Linked DNA regions of Homo sapiens: region 1 is linked to region 2. The links come from fine-mapping of genetic effects on gene expression. A gene starts in region 2. The other region holds a variant in brackets. All regions are shown on one strand. Distances are between the middles of the regions. Region 1 overlaps TESC (tescalcin). Region 2 holds the start of TESC (tescalcin).

Evidence for each region. PIP is the estimated chance that this variant, and not a neighbour inherited with it, causes the effect.
Region 1: its variant is fine-mapped to the expression of TESC in blood mononuclear cells (TOPMed, PIP above 0.99).

What each region holds. Positions count from the first base shown.
Region 1 is chr12:117,061,156-117,066,524 of GRCh38, forward strand. All of the region lies in intron 2 of TESC (tescalcin), which reads right to left. Among named protein-coding and RNA genes, the nearest start is that of TESC, 36 kb to the right of the region's middle. RefSeq lists enhancers at 1,258-2,034, 2,035-2,811. The variant C/T (reference allele first, on the strand shown) is at 2,137.
Region 2 is chr12:117,096,290-117,101,658 of GRCh38, forward strand. It overlaps TESC (tescalcin), which reads right to left and starts at 3,127. Exons shown (of 8, transcript NM_017899.4): 1 at 2,936-3,127. The coding sequence starts at 2,993. It overlaps TESC-AS1 (TESC antisense RNA 1), which reads left to right and starts at 3,178. Exons shown (of 3, transcript NR_120464.1): 1 at 3,178-3,355; 2 at 4,164-4,351. RefSeq lists silencers at 2,523-2,622, 2,693-2,802, 2,863-3,382, 3,121-3,259, 4,126-4,343.

The sequences.
Region 1 (5,369 bases), 35 kb before region 2:
CGGTGTCTGGTGAACTGGGAGTGCACCACAGATGGCACCTTGCAGGATGGGGACCCTGTGATGTCCACAGCACCCCGTCCTCAGTGCCTTGCACTGCTGGGCTTGGCAAGGTGGTCAATAAATGGTTTGCTGAGCGAATAATGAAGCGAATAATGAAGATGGCTGCACGCAGGGCTTCCCTCTTTGTCTGGCCCATCCTGAGGCACTGCCCTTCCCCAGGTGCCTTCCCCAGGGCCCAGGTGTCCAGACCCTGGAAGGAGAGCAGACCCCAATGTCCCAGGAGAGAGGGAGGAGAGGTGGGGGAGAAACCACCTAGAAGAGCCTGACCCATGTGCCTGGAGAAGAAATTAACTCAACACAAGAGGCCTGTCCCCAACCAGCAGCAACAAGACATGCTTGACCTGCTAGGAATTGAGCTGGGGACACAGTGTCCCCAGGTGCTGGCTTCACAACCCCCAGTGGGTGTGTAAATGGCTCTGAAGCCCGCTGCCTCTGCTCTCTCTCTCTCTCTCCATAGGCACCTGCTACATCCACACCTGACTCTCACCTCCCCCTCACCACTGGTGCCTGACTCTTGGAGCCTCAGTTTCCTCATCTGTGAGATGGGTGCAGACCTAATCCTTCCCATATCAAAGGGGATGGTTCAGGGTCAAACACAAGGTGGGGAGAGGGGTGCTGGCCCAGGCTCTGCCCCTTACCAGGCACATGGTCTTGAGTAATCACAGCATGTCTTCAAGCCGTGATTTCTCATATGTAAAATGGGGATCATAGGAATATCCAGGTAACATGATGGGGCTAATGAGATGATCAAATGAGATAAATCCACATAAGATGCTGAGTAGGCTGCCTGACACAGGATGAGCTCTTAATTTTAAAATAATAACAGTAATAACGGCAGCAGCAGTAACAGTAATCGCTGCAGCAGTATTAATAGTAGTAATAATAATAATGTAACAGCAGCTAACCTACGTACCCTCAAAATGGAAGGAACTATTCTAAGAGCTTTACATTATTACATAGGGTTCACAACAACCCTATAAAGTAGGTACTTATGCCCATTTTATTTTCTTAATTTTTTTTTTTTGAGACGGAGTCTCACTCTGCCGCCCAGGCTGGAGCACAGTGGCGTGATCTCTGCTCACTGCAACCTCCACCTCCTGGGTTCAAGTGATTCTTGTACCTCAGCCACCCGAGTAGCTGGGATTACAGGTACCTGCCACCATGCCCAGCTAATTTTTGTATTTTTAGTAGAGATGGGGTTTCACCATGTTGGCCAGGCTGGTCTCGAACTCGTGACCTCAGGTGATCTGCCCTCCTCAGCCTCCCAAAGTGCTGGGATTACAGGTGTGAGCCACTGCACCCGGCCTGTGCCCATTTTAAAGATGAGGAAACTGAGGCAGAGAGATGAAGCCACTTCTCATTGTTAAGAATGATACTGGCGGACCCAGGCAGTGGCATGGTGGTTGGTGCCTGGCCTTCAGGGACTTTCCCTAAAACCTGCCAATGTCCCTTTTCAACAAGGAGAGCACCGGCCTTGAGTCCAGCGCTTAGGACAGGCTAACCTTTTCATTTCATCAGTTTCATGCTCCATCAATACTCGTGTCAGTTTTGTTTTCCTTCCTCCCTAGGTCCCCGCCGGGCTGGATGAACCGGCTTTTCTAAAGGTGTCGCAGCCCAGGCTGCAGCCATGGGAACAGGCTCTGCCTCACCTCAGAGCCCAGGGCTGACGGCAGGTCACTGCCCTCAGCCAGAGCTGATTCTCATGGCCAGTGGTGTTGCCCCAGTGACCATCAGGGGTAGCGGGGATTGCCCAGGAGGGCTCCAGGGCCACACACCTTCCAGGCCTCCTGCGGGAGAGCTTGAGCCCTCGGGGCTTCAGAATGTCCCCCTGGAGTCATGAAGGGCTCGCGTGACATCAAGCTGTGCTAAGCACTGCAACACTTAATCACCCCCACATAATCATGAGTGGCAACAATGATGATCCTATTTTACAGACCAGAACACAAGGCCCAGAGAGGCAAAGAGACTAAGCCCCAGTCACACAGCTAGAGTTGGCGCGGGACTCCAGCTCTGCCTCCAGGCTGGCTCGAACCATCTTGCGCTTCCTCACTCTCACCACTTCCTTCCTTCCAGTTG[C/T]GCATTTTTACGTTAAAGAGAGAAAGAGCGAGGCATCTGCTCTCACCCAGCCCCCAGCCCTCAGCCCAAGAGGCCCCATCTGGGACCCAGGAAGAGGGCAGGACAAGCGTCAGGCCAACAAGAAGGGAAGGACCAGGCTCAAAAAACCACCGAGGACTGTGCTGGGCTCTTCCTCAAGCCTCGTGGTGTGGGTTGGTTTCCGGTGGCTTTCGGAGCCCAGCTCAGTTGCAAAGTTCTCTCTAGGGGTACTGAGCATGGAGCTCCCCAACCCCCACCAACCACCACAAGGCTAACCGACCTCCAAGGTGAGGGTGCAGCCAGGCCCCAGATTCTCAGGCCGGAACTTCCACCGCTCCAGGGCTCCCTGCACTGAGGGAGGCCACTTTGCCGGGCTGCCTGCCCAATGTCCCTCTGAGTTCCCCTTCCTGCACTGCCTGCCCAGTGCCCCTCTGATTCCCCTTCCTGCACTCACTGTTCAGCATGTGGTGTCCCCCACAGTGGGGAAGCTGAGGCCCCATGGAGACTCTTCAAGGCAGAGACTGCATGTCACTCAGCACATGTCTTCCCAGTAGCCAAGATACTCAAAGTGTGGTTTCTGGGCCAGCAGCATCTGCATCACCTGGAGCTTATTAGAGATGCACCATCTCTCCCTACTCCAGACCTACTGAATCAAAACCTGCATTAATACAGTAGTGCATTCATGGCTCACTGCAGCCTTGAACTCCTGGGCTCAAGTGATCCTCCCTCCTCAGCCTCCTGAGCAGCTGGGACTACAGGTGTGTACCACCACACCCAATTTATTTTTGGTAAAGACAGGGTCTCACTATATTTCCCAAGCTAGTCCTGAACGCCTGGGCTCAAGTGATCCTCCCGCCTTGGCCTCCCAAAGTGCTGGCATTACAGAACCTGCATTTTAACGCAGTCCCCAGGGCATTCACGTACACATGAATGCGTGAGAACTGCTGGCCTCTTAATCTCTCAATGTTTCAAAGCACCTGGAATTGTGCAAATGTGCTAGGCAATTCTCCTATCCACATTTTTGCACAGAAGATTCTGGCAAGAAAGGCCTGGTCCTTTTTGCTCCTGGCAAATGCCTCTTTGAAAAGCTGGACAACGTCGCCAAGACCACTCCCCCAGGCAAACACCTTCTCATCCCTGTCCCTGCCCCATGTCAGTCCCCCACTTTCCCCAACACCTGGAATTGACTTCTTACAGTGAAAGCAACTCAGCGACAAGCATTCGAGCCCCTTCAAGGAGCCAGGCACTGTTCTAGGTGCCAGCTGCAGAGGTAAAGACAGACACGATCCCTTACGGGGAATCTAGGAGAGCACAAAAAAGATGGGAAATAGAGTATCTCAGGGAGTGATGAGTACTTTGCAGAGAAATTCAGCAGAGAAAGGGAGGGGACCACAGGAGACCGGTACAAGTTTAAATGAGGTTGACCACAGAAAGGCCACAGGGAAAAAAGTGACATTTGAGCAGAGACCTGAAGGAGGGGAGGTTCTCCACTCCCATGTGTCCAGCTGGTGGGGAGGGTGCTACCAGCATCTAGTGGGTGGAGGCCAGGGATGCTGCTCAGCACCCCACAGTGCCCAGGACAACCCCCAGTGAAGAATCATCCAGCCCCAGAGCCCAGGCTCAAAAACCCTGCTCTAGGGGAAAAGCATTCTAAGAAGAAGGAACAGCATGAGCTAGAGCCCTGGGGTGGGGAACAAAGAATGTTCATGTAACTTGGGCAAAAATAATTGGAGATGGGTGTGGCAGGGGCCCAACCGTGCAGGGGCCAGAAGGACACTGAGAGGCCTCAGCGGAGGCTCTGACTCCCAATGGGTGAGACAGAACATCTTCAGCAGAGAAGAGACAGTCTCATAGGACCCTCCCACATGGTACCGTGAGCCTGGATGGTGGATGGACAGTGAAGACAGACACAGGGGAACCAGGGAGGAGGCTGTTGGGGTAGCCCAGGCCAGAGACCATGGCAGCTGGATGAGGGCAGGGGCTGGGGGAGCAGAGGAAGAAGGGGAGAGAAGTAGCAAATCCTGGGCTCCTTGGGAGGTAGAAATGGCAGTGTTTGCTGATGAACTGGAAGCAGGGCTGAGACAAAGGGAGGAATCAAAGGTGACCACTGCAGGGAACTGTGAGGCTGCCGTTCACCACAGAGGAACGGGGGACCTCTGGGAGGGATGAGGAGGTGCTTGCTTTGAAAGGGGCATGTTAAGCGGCATGTCTTATTGGATATTAAGTGGATGGGCAGTTGCTACATGAGTCAGGAGCTCAGGGGAGAGGTCCTGGGAGGACATACAGATGTAGGAGCTGGCCGGGCACAGTGGCTCACACCTATAATTTCAGCACTTTGGGAGGCTGAGGTGAGAGGACTCCTTGAGCCCAGGAGTTCAAGACCAGCCTTGGCAACATGGCAAGACCCCATCTCTACAAAAAATACAAAAATTAGCCGGGTATGGTGGTACATGCCTGTAAGTTCTGGGAGGCTGAGGCAGGAGGATCGCTTGAGCCTGGGTGGTTGAGGCTGCAGTGAGCTGAGATCGAACCACCACACTTCAGCTTGGGCAACAGAGCAAAACAACAACAAAAAAGTAGGAGCTAACATACAGCTGGTGTTTCAGGCCACATCTGTGCATTTTATTTCAAGGACAAAAGGAAACCCAAGTCATCACTAGGGCAAAGGCAAACCCTCTGTGATCTGCACCCAACTCTCCAATTCTCCTCATGTGCTGGGCCTTCTGCCTAGAGCTCCCCTCCCTCTTCTCTTCACACACCGGCTCCTTCTCTCCTGGTCTCAGCCCAGATGTGGCCTCCTCAGTGGCACCTTCCATGACCACCTACCCCAAGGACCCTCTCCTCCCTAGGGTTCCAGGGGATGGCTGTCTGCCCTGTTTCCTTCCTTTAGCTTTTTTTTTTTTTTTTTTTTTTTTGGGGCAGGGCTTCACTCTATCGCCCAGGCTGGAGTACAGTGGTGCGATTTTGGCTCACTGCAGCCTTCACCTCCTGGGTTCAACAGATGTTCTTGCCTCAGCCTTCTGAGTAGCTGGGACTACAGGCACCCGCCACCATGAATGGCTAATTTTTTTTTTTTTTTTGAGACGGAGTCTCACTGTGTTGCCCAGGCTGGAGTGCAGTGGCGCTATCTTGGCTCACTGCAAGCTCCGCCTCCCGGGTTCACGCCATTCTCCTGCCTCAGCCTCCCGAGTAACTGGAACCACAGGCACCCACCA
Region 2 (5,369 bases):
TGAGGCTTTTCTCCCTTTTTCTCAGGGAAGATTCCCAAGGGAATGGCCTTGGAGGAAGGGCCCTGCCTGACCCACTGGGTCTCTGGGAGCTGACGTTCCCATGCCAAGCCGATCGTCTCGCACGTAACCTTATCAAATCCACACAATGACTTCAGGATCCAGGTGGGGGTACTGAGGCTCAGAGAAGTAAGATGACTTGCCCAAGGTCATGTAGCTCAGAGAGGTGGGACCAAGACTCAACTCTCAGCTATGGCTCGGAGCGACCAGGACATACAAGAGTGTTTAAAGCATGGTCAATAACAAACCATGTACATGTGTTTGGTCTAACTACTTCATGTATATTAACTCAATCCTTCCCAACAACTTCAAGGGAGGTACTATGACTATGCCCATTTTATAGTAGATAAAACTGAGGCTCAGAGAGCATAAGTGACTTGCCCAAGGTACCTGGCAAGGCCCCTGAAGCCAGGCTCCTGCCACAGCCTGAGCCCTGACGACAGCTGTGTCCTCATCTCATGCATTCTTATTTACTGTTGCTGGCTTGTCCCTGCCACAGGGCCTCTGCATTCGACGTCCCCTCGGCCCGAGATGCCCTTTCCACTGATTTGCACACCCCTGGCTCATTCTTACTTGGATTTCTGTTCCATTATCACCTCCTCAGGGAGGACCTCCGGATCCACCCTAAAGCTCCATTCTCATGCCACCCTGCTATGCCTCGTTCACAGTTTAACACCTGTCGGGCGTTTTGTTTACTGTGTGTCCCCCTCCAGGAACAGCAGCCTCTCCGAGTCATCTCTAAATCCCCAGCCCCTGGTCTATAAATATTTGCTAAGTGGGCAAAAGTGACCGAATTACGCAGTCCCTTTCGGAGGACTGGGGGCAACTTTCCACCTACCTAAAGTTCCACCTGCCTACTCTAGTCTAACCTCAGAACCTCCTCTCCGACCCTCTCCATCTCCCTTGGGTTATGAAGTCTGAGCTCTGGGCAGCAAGAAGGGAAGCCGCTGCAGCTACATCTAGGAAGGTTACAGAGCAGGAACACAGCATCTGTCATCCCAGTGGGAGGCTGGACCCAGGAAACTGACAAGACTCCCAGCATGCTCTGCAGCCCCTCCTCCCTGTCAAACCCACAACCAGGTGGAATTCCCGAGTGCCCCGTGGGCTGCCGGAGAGCCCACCCTTCCAACGGGGATCCCAGCCACAGAGAATGCCCATCGACACCCATCCAGATTCAAAGCAGTGGGAGGCGAGGAGAGGGCACATGAGAAATAATAAAAGCAGAGGAGACCCAAGCAAGTAAGAGCTAGAGGAATCCCTCCTTTCTCTCTCATATTAGTCTTCGGATTGAAGTGCATAAAACTTTTTGAGTAAGTAAAATATCCAACATAGTTCAAAATGAACATATAAAAACGTTTACGGAGAAAAAGCTCACTCTCCCTTCATCCCTTCCACTCCCCCCGCAACCCCCACCAAGCATCCATTCGTACTTTCTGGTGGATTCTTCCAGTCTGCAAATATAGCAATTACAAATGTATACTCTTATTTTCCCCTCTTTTTACATTTTCTATTTCTTTTTACTTTGCGGCTCCAGCTCAAAGGATCCTTTTTTAAAAAACAGAAAAAAGGGTACCATATTATATATGCTGAGCCACACCTTTTACTTCTTTAGTTGGATATTTCTATATCTCTACACACACAGAGATACAGATATAGACGTATAAGTGCGTGCATACACACACCAGTTATTAATGGTTTTCTGCAATTTTCATCCAGTTCTCCTGGAAAGGGGTATTTAGATTGGGGGTCAAGAGGGGTTGCTTTTCAGCTGACACACAAACAGCTGGGCCACCCTCTCTTGGTGATCAATACTGGACGCTGGTTCTCTGCACTTGAAGCAGGTGCCAGGAGCTAGCTCTTTCCCAAAATATCTGCAGCTCCCATTTCCTGAGCGTCTACCAGGTACTAGGAGAACTCTTACAACAGAGAAGGAAAGCTGAGAATCAGAGAGGTAAAGTGACTAGCCCAAGGTCACACAGCCAGGAAGTGCAGCTGGCAGGGTTCACAGCCGGTCTGTCGCTCGCCAAAGCCGGTTTGCCCACACACCTGGCCCCCGCGGTCTCCAGTCCACACCCTGGTCCACAGCCAGAGGCAGAACTGGCCATGCCGAGTTCAGGACCCAGGGCCAAGTCCCCAGCCCGGCTGAACTCGGGCAGAGAAGCGCTTTCTCCGCCATTTCCCTGCGGGCAGCTCGGCCAGGCCTCCCAGGGCTCCCCGCCTCCGGGCCGATGCGGGGCGCGCAGCCTTTGCTGGTCCCGGGAGACTCAGCGAACTCAGGGGAGGACGCTGGGCTCCGGGCAAAGTGCTCTGCGGCCGCTGCCTCGCTAAGTCTCCCAGCCACCCGCGGGGATGAGGCTGCCTGAACCCATTTTACAGATGCGAGGACGAAAGCAGGCGCCGGGCGCCGGCTCTCCCGACTAAGGTCACCCGGCCGGGGAGCGTCGGAGACCTGTTCCCACCCAGGTCCGCCGACTTCAAAACTTTCCGCTCTCGCGCTCACGAATGCAAACGACTCTCAGGTGTGGGGCGCGCGCGCCAGCGGGGGTGCCTGAGGGACTTGCCCGCCCGGCCTGAGGCACCTGCCCTGCGCTTGGGAAGCCTGGGCCCCGCTCCCTCCCCGGTCCGCAGTCCCCCGGCCAGGGAGTTCCCGGGCCAGTCCGAAGCTGAGCGGCTGCGGCACTGAGCATCGCCGCGGAGCTCCTCGCCGCAGCCCGCGAGGTGGCCAGCGGGGACCCATTTGAAAGAGGAGGAGACTGAGGCGCAGAGAGGGCCCGCCACTGGCCCAAGGTCACACAGCGCGGCGGCGGGCCGGGGTCCCCAACAGTGGCCGTTCGGAGGTCCCGCCCCGGTCCCCGCGCCGCCCCCCGCGGGTACTCACAGCCGGTCTTGCCCTCGAGCTCCCGCACCTCCTCAGACGCGGAGTGGGCAGCGCCCATGGTGCCCGCGGCGGGGGCCCCGGGGCGCGCGTCCCTCTCAGGCCCCGCACTGGCTTCGGCTGCGCAGCGGCGGGACTGGCCTCGGGTCCGGCCTCGGGTCGGGACGCCGGCGAAGGCTCGGAGCCGCGGGTTCCGCGTGGGGCCGGAGCGGGGCCTCATATAACGGCGGAGGGCGGCGCGCCGCGGTCCTAGCGCACGCCGGTTTCGCGCACTGCGCGGCTAGGGGAGCGCCCCGCCCCGCCCCGGCCCGGAAACCGCCGGGAAGGGGACCCCGGAGCCCACCGCTCTGGAGTCCCCGTTCGTGCAGCAGTGCTCACGTACCTCGTCCCTTCCGCACACCTGCTGGATCTGGAAGGAAGCAGGTGTGAGCAAATTTGGGGGCGTGGGTAGGAGGGGTGGGACCCCTGGGAGGTGCTATGCCCACTCCCAACCCATCCCACCTTACATCCTCCAGATCTTAGGAGGGAAACTCCACTGAGATAGTCAAGGAAGTCAGCGAGCATGAAATAGCTCTATGGAGAACAACAGTAATAATAATCCTATTTGAAAATGCACCATGCGCTTTGGTTTTTTCCAGGAAAGCCCCAGCACCTTCTGAGGTGAACACACCCACGTGGCGGCCCGTGTGGGCCCTGCACAGCCCGGTGGCTGAGAGGCACCTCAAACTGCAGGAGCGGGCTGGGCGCATGGCTCACGCCTGTAATCCCAGCACTTTGGGAGGCCAAGGCGGGCGGATCACTTGAGCTCATGAGTTCGAGACCAGCCTGGCCAACATGGTGAAACCCCGTCTCTACTAAAAACACAAAAATTAGCCAGGCGCGGTGGCACATGCCTGTAATCCCAGCTACTCCGGAGGCTGAGGCAGGAGAATCACTTGCACCTGGGAGGCAGAGGTTGCAGTGAGCTGAGATCTTGCCACTGCACTCCAGCCTGGGCGACAGAGCAAGACTCTGTCTCAAAAAACAAACAAACAAAAAAACAACTGCAGAAGTGGGCCCAGGAGGCTGCATTTGGGACAAACTGCTGGAGAGAAGGCAATGCCGGTGGTCCCCATGCCCATTAGGGAAGTTCTGGGTTAAGATGGCTTGAGGGGTTGGCTCTCCATCCAGTTGGGGTGACTGGGGCCGATGCTGTTGCCTGTGTAATGTGATTCCTCCTCCTTAAAATAAGGATAAGTTAATGAGATGTCCACCAGAGGGCCTGGCGTGGACACAGCACATGGCCACAGAGGCTGGTGGGCGCTATGGAATCTTGTCCCCTGGAGAGGCACACAGCCAGGGCAGAACATCAAGGTCAAGGCTCTCCTGAAGGCTCTGCAGTGCTTAGTGACACCACCATCAATGACCGTCAGGTATCAGGTCTGTTCTGAACGTTAGTCTCGATGATAAATGTTGGGGAGGAAGGGGGACAGGGTAGGGGGCAGGAGTTTTTCGGTGCCCACAGAGGGGACTCGGGTGGACCTACCTCCATCAGTTTCACAGGCTGCTGGGAAGGGGGCTGCTGAGAACTGCTGTTCATTCCTGCAGACTACAGGCTCAAGCCAAGGGTCACAGCCCTTTCCAGGGGCAGGAGGTGACTTTCAGAGCCCGAGGTAGAGGGTGGGAGTTGGTCCTAAAACCTCCTAGAGCATCAGAATCAGCCCCTTCCTGGTTGCAAATCCAGCTTTTGGCCAGGTGCAGTGGCTCATGTCTGTAATCTCACCACTTTGGGAGGCTGAGACAGGAGGATTGAGCCCAGGAGTTTGAGACCAGCCTGGGCAACATAGCAAGACCCCAGCTCTACCAGCAATTAAAACTTTTTAAAAATGAGCTGGGCACAATGGTGTGCGTCTGAAGTCCCAGCTACTTGGGAGGATGAGGCAGAAGGATCGCTTGAGCTCAGGAGTTAGAGGCTGCAGTGAGCTCTGATTGCACCACTGCACTCCAGCCCAGGCAACAGAACGAGACCCTGTCTCTAAAATGGAAAATCCAGCTTCCTCTTCCACTGCCTGTCTGCACTCGTAGAGCTAAGGCAGCACCTGCAATCTGCATTTTAAAGCACTCTCCAGAGGGCAGTGCAAGACCTGATCAAGGTGGAAAGATGTTGGCTGTGGGTCATCAGCTGATCTGAGCCGGCAGGACAGCTGACCTAGGGACTGCATTTTGGTTTAAAGGATTCTGGAAACAGGCAGGCCTCTGGGATCAGGAAAGGATCCCCAATACCCCTGGGAGTTCTGAGCCGCTGAGCCAGCCCATTACGTACAGCTGCTGGGAGCAATTTTATTCCAACTTAAAATGTCAGTTCCTGGAATTTTATTATATTAAACTAGTCAAGGATTAAATGATGGAACTGTCTGATGTGGGGGATAGGAAGTGGCATTCTCTGGACATCAGCCCC